Linked DNA regions of Homo sapiens. Changing the gene in region 2 together with the main gene of any one other region gives a genetic interaction. Each region holds a gene or a part of one and is shown on either strand. Other genes may lie near its edges.

Region 1 (3,732 bases), on a different chromosome or scaffold from region 2:
CTCCTTCAGCTCTCTTCCTCCACTGTTCTGCAAACACAGGTTTGATGAGGACACAGAGCTGTTGAGAAACTCTTCATGGGGTCTTGTGGTGGGATGAATGTCCAACTCCCTGGCCAGGGAGGGCACTCTCCACTGTACAGCCCAAGCCCTCAACACGCATTCCTGTGGCTCTGTTTTCTAGACAGTTCAACACAATTTCCCGCTCTCCACACATACTGTGTTCTTTTCACGCTCTACCCAGAAGGTCCTGCCCCCGGCTCCTTCATATGGAAAATCCATCCTCATTCTGGAAGAGCCAGGTCAGGAGTCCTTTCTCAGAGTCTTTCCTGATCCAACCAGTCAGTTGCTGCTGCTCTTTTTTTGTTTTTTTGAGACAGAGTTTTGCTCGTTGCCCAGGCTGCAGTACAATGGTGCAATCTCAGCTTACTGCAGCTTCCACCTCCTGGGTTCAAGTGATTCTCCTGTCTCAGCCTCCCGAGTAGCCGGGATTACAGGCATCCATCACCACACCCAGCTAATTTTTGCATTTTTAGTAGAGACAGGGTTTCACCATGTTGGTCAGGCTGGTCTCAAACTCCTGACCTCAGGTGATCCACCCACCCCGGCCTCCCAAAGTGCTGGGATTACAGGCATGAGCCACCGCGCCCGGCCCAGTTGCTTCTTCTATGTGATGTGCCATAGAACGTTGAATGTCTCTCAACTCACTCATCCATTCTATGACCTTGTGAATATTTACATACTGGTAAGTTTATTCCCTGTGCTAGCTGACCACGTGCTCCTGGGAAACAGAAACCATGTCTGATTCTTTCTGTGGATCCCTAGCACTTGACAGAGTAGACATTCAATAAATACTTGCTGAATGAATGCAAAACTGTGTTCTATTAACTTCAAATTTCAAATTATTCTAAGGAAAGTAAAAAGCCATATGAACAGATATATTTCATTTTCATAGAACTGGTGGTAAATTGTCAATATATGTAATAAAGTGGATAAATACAGCAGCTTGGCAGACCCTGGACACATCAACTAAATTACTGTTTCATGGGTTCCTACTGTGTGCACGGTGCTAATATAAACACAGAGGAGAAAAAGCTGCCTCATCCCTACAACTCAGAGGAGTTGGAAAGACAGTATTCAACCTAGGAAGAGCAAAATATATATCTTCATCTCCACTATCATCACTGTTATCAAGCGCTCACTGAGTTACAGGGTGAGCTGCAGTGTGAGTTCTGGAGAGATGTGGTCAAGATCTAATTCCTGACTTTATAATCATATAGAATGTTTATTATACTAAGGTCTCCTTTAATTTTTAAATAAATTCATACAACCAACCTGGTAAAATGTATACAAATGCATGTCATTTGAAATGAACCTAATGAAATGTATTAGTCAGTGAGGCTTGACAAAGCTCAGAGCATTCAGAGCTGCAAAGGGATGACTGAAACATGATGTTTAGGACACTGAGAGATGTACCCAGAGCCCCTGCTCTGATCAACTCACACGCATATTTGAAAGGACAGGACCTCCCATGATCATCATCTTTAGGAAACAAAGATTTGGTTGTGTCATGAGTCAATAACCAGGACATTACCAGGGAGCAGCTCATCTGGCTGGAGGAACAACAGTGGTCAGCAGCAGGTGGGAAGCCCATCGGGCCAGAGCACAGGTGAGACACAGGTTTGTGTATAGATACTGGCTAGGGTGATCTGTTCATGGACTTACAGGTGAATACATGGAATGCAAGGCATCAAGGGCACGAAGAAAGTAACAGAAGGCCTAGGATGGACAGACGGGAGACAGGAGTCTGCGGGGAGTGAGGGTCAGAGGACTGAATGATGCAGCTCACCAGTAACCAAAAGCGGGGCAGGGAAACAGACTGAACAGAGAAGCAAGAGGCCAGGCTCCTCGGGGTAAGTTTATTCGCCTCTGTGACACATGTAGACGACCTGTCCCTTCCTGACCTTTTCTTTTTGGAGATGGAGTCTTGCTCTGTCGCCCACGCTGAGTGCAGTGGCACAAGCTTGGCTCACGGCAACCTGTGCCTCCCAGGTTCAAGTGACTCTCAAGTGACTACCAGCGCCCGCCACCATGCCCAACTAATTTTTGCATTTTTAATAGAGATGGGGTTTCACCATATTGGTCAGGCTGGTCTTGAACTACTAACTTCAGGTGATCCACCTGCCTCAGCCTCCCGAAGTGCTGGGATTACAGGCATGGGCCGCCGCGTCTGGCCCTTCCTGAACTTTTGTACTCAATTTGCCATAGAATCACTTCATCCTAACTGCGCAGGAGCCTTGAAAGGTCACAAGGTCTGAGCATCCACCTGCTGCTTTGTCATTCATCTCATGCTAATCCTCCTCCACCTGCGTCTAAACTAAACATGGAACAGACTGCTCAGTGACTGGGTTTTCCATGACTCCAGACAGTGTCATTCTATCCTAACCTTCCAAATAAGAAAGTCTGGGTTCATCTTCAACACATCACAGCCTCTCATCATACACATGAAATCTGCAGCCATTCTGAGGTGTTATCCTTTACTGTTACTGCAGACCTTGCTCACACCTCCACCCACTTCCTACTTTGCTGTGTCTCCTTTCCCTCCCTCCCTCTTACTCTTTCCCATGTACTGTTCACTGCCACTGTCAAACATCTGTTCACATAATTTCCTGCCTGAAGGTCACCAGGTTCCCTTCTCTATGACGAATCAAGTCTAATTATAAAGTTGCATAAACTCAGGAGGCACAACCTCCACAGAGTGGAGCTGAGCACCATGCTGGCTCTGCCTTGGCATCTGTCTGAACGGGTTCCTATTCCTCAGCCTATCCCTTCTCTCCATCTGCGTTAAGCTGAACACCCTCTTTCCAATTAGACCATCTAGGTCCTCCCCACTCTAGTCTAAGTTCCGTGTATGAAGAGGCAGAAGGCATCCTTTTGACTGTCTCAGAGAAGGCTCTTAGAGGCATGTGGAATAAATACCACTCTGACCCAGCGAACACTGCCACAAGCAATGTCGTATTCCCAGAACATGCTCTCAATCTAGTTTGCCTGCCTTTCATTCTGTCATTCAAGTAACCCTTAAAAAATCTTACCTCCTCCTCAGGGCTTTTCAAGGCTAAAGTGAAGGGAGGTGCTCTCTTTCCCTTGCGGCTTTAGACACTCCTGAGACTCTCTCTTATAGGTTTACCAACACACTTAACTTTTGGTTAAATGTACATTAACCAAAAGTGTTGGGGGAAGTAAATGATTAATCTTAGCCATTTAGCTAGAGTTATTTTCAATTTATCACTGATATCTCTGTATTACATTGTCTTCTACAACCAGTGAGTCAGGGACAAAGACAGTGACACCAAACCGAGCTCAAATGTTCTCTACGAGGATGACATAACCTGTAAGGTTTCTAAGCAGTGCTCACATTCGCGATACAGGCTCTCTAGATATCTATGCCCTATGTGGAGTCAGCGCACCAAGAGTGTAGCATTTTATTTATTTATTTATTTAGAGGCAGAGTCTCACTCTGTTGCCCAGGTTGGAGTGCAGTGGTGCAATCTCAGCTCACTGCAACCCCTGCCTTCCAGGTTCAAGTGATTCTCCTGCCTCAGCCTCCCAAGTAGCTGGGACTACAGGTGCATGCCAGCACACCTTGGTTAATTTTTTTATTTTTAGTAGAGATGGGGTTTCACCATGTTGGCCAGGCTGGTCTCCAACTCCTGACCTCAACTGATCTGCCCACCT
Region 2 (3,500 bases):
TTCAAGAAAGCAAAGATGTCTATAAGACATTTTAGGGCAATTCATAACACAATTATTAAAATAAGACCGTTTTGGCACTTTTAAAAGCGGTGACCTATTCAAGAACTAGAAAACCGGAATTTTTCATTATATTCAATTTTTGCCCAAAAGTTTAAGAGGAAGTATTATACTAGTTTCAGTATATATTTGCCCTAATTTTATCAAGGTGTAATATATTTTCGTGATGGTGAGGGTGGAGAGAGAACACAGTGTTCACATCCAAAACATAACTTATGTTCAAAGGGAGAAGTAAATCTAAACCACCAAGCTGTTACCTTTGAAAACAATTAATGGAGTCTATTGTGTTTTAACCAAACATTTTAGATTAAAGGATTTTGTATTAAAGGCAATTCAGATACTCCACAACTCAAAGATAATGTTGGAATCTGGTTTAAATAAAATAATAAAATCCAGAAAATCTACTCCAAGGCCTGGAACTCCGCACAGCAGGTTCCATAGCAGAGCAGGTTAAAGTCAATGCCTTCACTTGTCAGTCTTAATTTGTTTGGTCTTTTAGAAGATAGAAGCATGCCATTACTGAATGCAAGCCCTCCTCTTCATTAGATTAAAAAGAGTTTTCATCCAGCTTTTTCAGAAATAGTAATAAGTGAAGATTTCTATTCATTTTTAATTGTTTTGAAAAATATTGTCTCTGTGCTCTGTGGTTCACTTAATATGCTTAATGTAAAATAAAGCTTATGCTTTGAATTTATGTTTCATTTAGTGCTGTGCAAGCATCTGCAGAACATCAGAAAAGACTTCAACAGTTCTTGGAGTTCAAAGAATAGTTAAGTAATATAAACTGTGTTCATTACACTGCTGATACAACTACAGATGGGACAGTAAATGTTCAGCATTCTTGGATCAGAAGAAAACGGACTAATTAGATGCTTCCTTTGTCGTGGTGGTTGCTTTGAAAACTATACTTTAATGGGAGAAATCATGGAAAGAAATTCTCAACAGAATAACTGAAAACTGCCTTTTCTGTACCGATTGCTTTTTGTGTGTGTGGTATAATAAAATCTTTATTCAATTTTACAGAAGCATTGATGGCAGTCGAAATGTCTCTAGCTCATATAACTTAATAGTAATAACTAAAAAACTTTTAGAATTTACTTTTGAAAGGAGGGAAGCCAGTTCTGAAATGAGTATAGGTTGATTTCATAGTCTTCTTAATTAAGAGTTTAGCTCTTTGTAAACTCAAAATACATAAACTTTTTAAGTGTAGTTTCATTTACTGAAGGATAAAAATGGTAACAGTGCAGCAATATTCACAAAAAATATTGTCTAACGGACATATTTTGTTAATCTGTTAGGTTGGGTTTTTGTTTCCAGGGACAAATTAAATTTGTATGATTACCCAAAAAAGGGTCTCAGTTTACAGATGCTAACTCTATATAAAGGAATGTGGAAAAACTCAGTTCTTAAGTTACAAGATTAAAAATTCACATTTGGTCTTTAAGAAACAATTGACTGACATCTATGAATTTATTTTGTATCATGCTAGTAAACACGAAGTATTAATGTATGGGTATTTTCCCAGCTAGTTTTGCTTTCTTTTTCTGGAGCAAAACATTAAGTGATTGCAGAGTTTTTCAAGCAAGAGAAAAAGGTTTGCAAAAAAACCCAGGAAATGTTCCCTTTTTTCCCCACCATTCATCTTCATTAGATCAAATTCTGTGAAACTTGTCTGGTCTCTCAAAGGGAGCAGCCTCTGTAGTGTTAAATGGCTAATTAAAATAGGAAGATCTTTATAGCCAGAAACAACTTAGTCATCAAATAGCAAGTGAAACCAAAACGTCAGAGGGATTACTGTACTTGGAAGTATGTTGTGTGTCCCAAATGTGAACGAAGTATTGTTAGAATTTATTAGATCAGCTTCTTTGGAGATCAAAGATTGGAAATCCTAGTCATAGATATTCACTGGACTGGCTTTGGACTGAAATGCTCCTTTGTAATTCTTTTCCTATTGTCTTTTCCTTCTAGTGTCCCAAAATATTTTCTTTAAAGTCAGCACAGTACTGTATATGAATCTTTAATGTGGTATCATATATGTCTACTTTTGTCTGATTCATCGATGTATTATATCTTTATAATTGAATATTTTAGCTCCGGGTCCTGTTGCCCCTTCAAGCAGTACATGCCAAATTATAAATAGGTGCTACTGGCCTTGAGCATATCACTGTGGGACAGTTCCCCAATTGTCAAGTGTTTAGATATGTAGACTATTGCCATTTGTTTTTTTGTTTTGGTTTTGCTTTGTGTCTGAAGCTGAATTGATTTCTTTTTTTTGAATGTGAAAGTTGAATTTCAAACGTAGTCATTTCTTACAGATGGCCAAGACAGAAAATTGTGGCTAGGTTGACTGAGAACTGTTGTCTTCCATGTATTAACACAATTAAGCTTTTTATATTCCACTCTCTGTGCTGACCCTGGCTGAGGCATTTTGGGAGACAAGGACTCTGAATCTTCTGCTTCCATTAAAGAAGAACTGTGATATTCAACATTGGATTTCTGAGAATAAAGATAGGATGATTCCTTTGAACTTTGACTTACTTGTATAAAATGTCCAGCTAGGTTAGGTTTTTGCCATTTCCTATATACTTTGGGTAAAGCTACATTTGATGAGCAATGTGAATGTTTCTGAGAATGTTCATTCCTGTTTTCTCTTAAGAGAATGTGCTGTGTACTAAATACAGGCCACATAGTGTCTGCCTGTTGAAGATCTGGAAACTGCCTCCCCAGATCTGTATTGTATTTGGTAGGTAAGGGGGTCAGTTTCTTTTTCTCATTGTGTGTTGATAATCTACACACCATCTGTTGGAACCAGGGTGTTATTATGGGGAACTCCTCCTGTGTACTAGGAGGAGGACCTTAGGGAGACCAAGAGGAGAGAAGCATTTCCTTTGATGAAGTCACATCCTGTCTATGAGCCCACTAATGCTGTAACATTGGCCTGAAAGAGAGTGTTCTTTAAAAGCCTTTCTCGGCTGTTAGTATAAAAACATGATGGTATCAGCTCTTAGCATGTTTGCTTGACCCTTATGGAAGGTATAAATCCACAGAACTTCCTTCCCAGAGAACTGGGAAATTGTCCTAGAAATAAACCTTGTACAGTTGAGTGGACATGGATAAGCAACAATTTGTTACTTTGCAGGATTTGTTCCTTGGTAATTGTTTGGTGTGTCATCCTGTAAATATTCATGATAGTCTGTTTATATCCTTTTGTATATCGTTGATACTGGATTGGGTAGAAAAATAAATTGGCAATTTAAAAAAATGGAACAGTTAATTGAAATATGTGTGTTTATAAGGTCAATTATTTAATTTCTGGGCGGGGGGGTGGTGGTGGTGATGTTTCCTGAATCATTTCAATTTAGTCTCAGAGTTGTTGCTTATAAAACCAGAAAGAGTTGAACTTCTTGAGAAGTCAGCTTTTGCCCTTAACCTAGACTGATTTG
Region 3 (3,732 bases), on a different chromosome or scaffold from region 2:
TTCTCTAGTTTGACCATTGTACAGATTTATCTGGCAATTTTACTAAAACCTGATTTATAGGTTAAACTTGGTGTATATCATATATCACTTTACTTTAGAGGAATTAAGATTTCACATAAATCCATTTCCAGGTTCCAAAGACCAGGAAGAGGCTTGGTTTTTGTTTTTCTTTTTACTGTCTTTACAGTCTCCTTGACTTTTCTTAGGAGAGAAGGTACTGAGAAAACATGATTCTAATATTTATTATTTTTTCTTCCAACATTTTCTTATGAAACATTTTCAAATACAAAATTGAGTTTTATTTAAAACATTTGCAAATATACTACCTAGATTCTACCATTGTTGTTTTATATTTGCTTTACTTACAACTTTTAAAAGATGCTTTTTATACCACTGAACATTTTAGCTTACATTTCACAAAGAAAAGAAAAAATTTAAGAGACTTTGCATAATGTTTTAAGGGGTTGCAGTAAAGAAGTGCTTCTTATATTTTCTTATGCATACAAATCAGCTGGGCTTATTAAAATCCAGATTCTAATTCAGAAGGTTTAGGTGGGGACCGAGTCTGCATTTCTAACAAACTCCTAGGTGGTATTTTTCTTGGTACTTGGACCATACTTTGAGTAGAAAAGCAGTAGAGGACATAAAAAGAGTCTTGTTAGTCCCACTTTGTTGCTGTCCACTTCTCATTTGATAATATCCTAAAATAGCTGTGTCTCCTTTTTGGTGGTTGTATGATTACTACCTCAGAAGTACTAATTGATTCTTGCTATTTGACCTTAATACTTTAATATAACACAGCATTCATATTTGATCAGAAAACTATCTGGCTTCCTTTTATAAGAGATTTTTAGGTTTTATACAGTTTTGTGGCCTTGGGTTTTTTTGTTTGATTTGTTTTTTTGAAGGTATATAATATGTAAGTAGATAAACAAATTTGATTTGTAGACATTTTTATGTGGATCATCTAATTAAAAATGGAGGGATACAGTATGAAAGAATACTTGTACTTCTTAACAGAGCACTCAACCTTTCTTTTACATCCTGTTTCACTGATGTTATTATGTAATTTATGTTGCTAAACTATAAATTAGATATTTAATTTCTGTTCTTTGATTTCCTTTTATTATTAAATGGACTTGTTGATTTGCCTAGAAATTAATTTGCCTTTCAAAAGTCTTATTAATCTTCCTCCGTTGAAATTAATTTGATATTTGCATGCTTCTGGAAGACTTTAAAGAGCTATTCCGAGTAACTGTAGAGATTATAAAATGAAATATGGGAATTTTAATAAATTTTACATCTCCAGTTACTGGTGAAAATGTCAAGTCCTCCTTTCTGCAGAGTATTTTGTTACTCATCTGTTATTCAGCTTATTTATTTATTTATTTATTTATTTATTTTTCTTTCTTTCTTGTTTTTTTTTTTTGAGACGGAGTCTTGCTTTGTCGCCCAGGCTGGAGTACAGTGGTGGGATCTTGGCTCACTGCAGGCTCCGCCTCCCGGGTTCACACCATTCTTCTGCCTCAGCCTCCCAAGTAGCTGGGACTACAGGCACCCGCCACCATGCCTTGCTAAATTTTTGTATTTTTAGTAGAGACGGGTTTCACTGTGTTAGCCAGGATGGTCTCGATCTCTTGACCTCGTGATCCACCTGCCTCGGCCTCCCAAAGTGCTGGGATTACAGGCATGAGCCACCGCGCCTGGCCCTTATTTGTTTTTTAAACAAAATTAGTGTGCATATCCTTGTTGTATTTTATCGGCAAGTTGTTTTATGCCCTAACTTTTGGGGTCTTGATCATGAGCCTAAAACACGTAAACACCCAAAAAGAATTATATTCCGGTTAAAGGAACAAAACATTCATTTAGAAGTTCTCATCCATGTAAATCAGAGGCTGGCAAATATTTTCTGTAAAGGGCCAAGATAGTAAATGTTTTAGGCTTTGAGGGCCACAAGTGGTATCTGTTGCATTTTTTTTTAATTATGACCCTTTAAAATGCAAAAATCGTTGTTAGCTTGTGCATAGTATAAAAATAGGCTGGCCGCATGCTGTGGCTCATGCCTGTAATCCCAGAAATGAGGTGGGAAGCCGAGGTGGGCACACCACCTGAGGTCAGGAGTTCGAGGCCAGCCTGGCCAACGTGGTTGAAACCCCGTCTCTACTAAAAATACAAAACTTAGCCAGGCGTGGTGGCGGGTGCCTGTTATCCTGGCTACTCAAGGGGCTGAGGCAGTAGAATTGCTTGAACCTGAGAGGCAGAGGCTGTAGTGAGCCCAGATCAAGCCAGTGCACACCAGCCTGGACGACCGAGCGAGACTCTGTCTCAAAAAAAAAAAAAAAAGGCTGTGGCTGCATTTGGTCCATTGGCTGTAATATGCTGATTCCTAATTCTCTGGGTAACTTTAGTGTTTGATTAGCTACTAGAAGTTAGGTTAAACTTTTGTATTTTACAGGCTAACTTTAATAATCTTAAAGTAAAACTTAACATAGTTCATGGAAAGGAAATAGAAATTTTACCCTAGTACTCTTTTTTTTTTTTTTTTTTTTTTTTGAGGCAGAGTCTCCCTCTGTCACCCAGGCTGGAGTGCAGTGGTGGGATCTTGGCTGATTGCAACCTCCTCCTCCTGGGTTCAAGCAATTCTTGTGCCTCAGCCTCCCGAGCAGCTGGGACTACAGGCACGCACCACCACACCTGACTGATTTTTGTATTTTTAGTAGAGACAGGGTTTCGCCATGTTGGCCAGGCTGGTCTTGAACTCCTGGCATCAAGTGATCCTCCCATCTGAGCCTCCCAGTGTGCTGGGATTACAGACGTGAGTCACTGTGCCTGGTCTCTAGTATTTTTTTTTTTTTTGAGACGGTCTCACTGTTGCCAGGCTGGAGTGCAGTGGCGCGATCCTGGCTCACTGCAACCTCCGCTTCCCGGATTCAAGCGATTTTCCTGCCTCAGCCTCCTGAGTAGCTGGGACTATGGGTGCACACCACCACGCCCAGCTAATTTTTGTATTTTTAGTAGAGACGGGGTTTCACCATGTTGGCCAATATGGTCTCAATCTCTTGACCTCGTGATCTGCCCGTCTCGGCCTCCCAAAGTGCTGGGATTACAGGCGTGAGCCACTGTGCCCAGCTGTACTTTTTAAGATAAGAATTGCAGGGTATATATTTTTACCAACTTAATAACTTATAATTTTAAAAAGCTAATTACTTGGCTAGAATATAATGCGTTACATATTCTTTACACTCAGTTCAGTCCATATCTGAAAGGCAAATAGAATTATTTTCTGCTAGTACATTGTGTAGTCCCTATGTTCCTAGTGTATAAGGACTGTTACCTAGTTCACATTTATCTGGGTTGTTGACAGATTTTCCTGGTCCCTTTGGACAGTGCATGGCCATGTTGGCAAAAGCTGTCAAAATTGAAACATTGACACCATGAGAATTGTGTGTTTTCCAGTCTGCTAAAATCAAAAGTGGGAGGGTTCAGTAAGGTGAATAACAGAAGCAGAGTTTTCGGGGTATCTGTTACTCCTCATTCGGCTTTTCTGCTCTCTGGGGGTCTCAATTTAAATATAATGTGAAAATTAGTTTTACGAACCTAAAAATGTTGAGTGATTCATTTCCTGGTTTTGTTGTTAATTTCTAGATATTTAAATTAATTGTTAGAAGAACCCCGTTAAAGAATGCTTTGCAAAACAACCTCCTTATGTGCTATGTCTCTGTTTAATAGTAG

Evidence for each region.
Region 1: changes in NDC1 (region 2) and SPPL3 together harm fitness less than expected from each alone (positive genetic interaction), as found in Homo sapiens cells (one large-scale study listed by BioGRID).
Region 3: changes in NDC1 (region 2) and KRAS are lethal when combined (synthetic lethality), as found in Homo sapiens cells (2 studies listed by BioGRID).

The regions. Positions count from the first base shown.
Region 1 is NC_000012.12:120,771,671-120,775,402, forward strand, and holds part of SPPL3 (signal peptide peptidase-like 3), read right to left. Parts: intron 1-3,732.
Region 2 is NC_000001.11:53,765,297-53,768,796, reverse strand, and holds the end of NDC1 (nucleoporin NDC1), read left to right. Parts: intron 1-763; coding exon 764-827; 3' UTR 828-3,319; downstream 3,320-3,500. UniProt on the Homo sapiens protein: Component of the nuclear pore complex (NPC), which plays a key role in de novo assembly and insertion of NPC in the nuclear envelope.
Region 3 is NC_000012.12:25,219,846-25,223,577, reverse strand, and holds part of KRAS (GTPase KRas), read left to right. Parts: intron 1-3,703; exon of another isoform or gene 3,704-3,732. UniProt on the Homo sapiens protein: Ras proteins bind GDP/GTP and possess intrinsic GTPase activity. Plays an important role in the regulation of cell proliferation.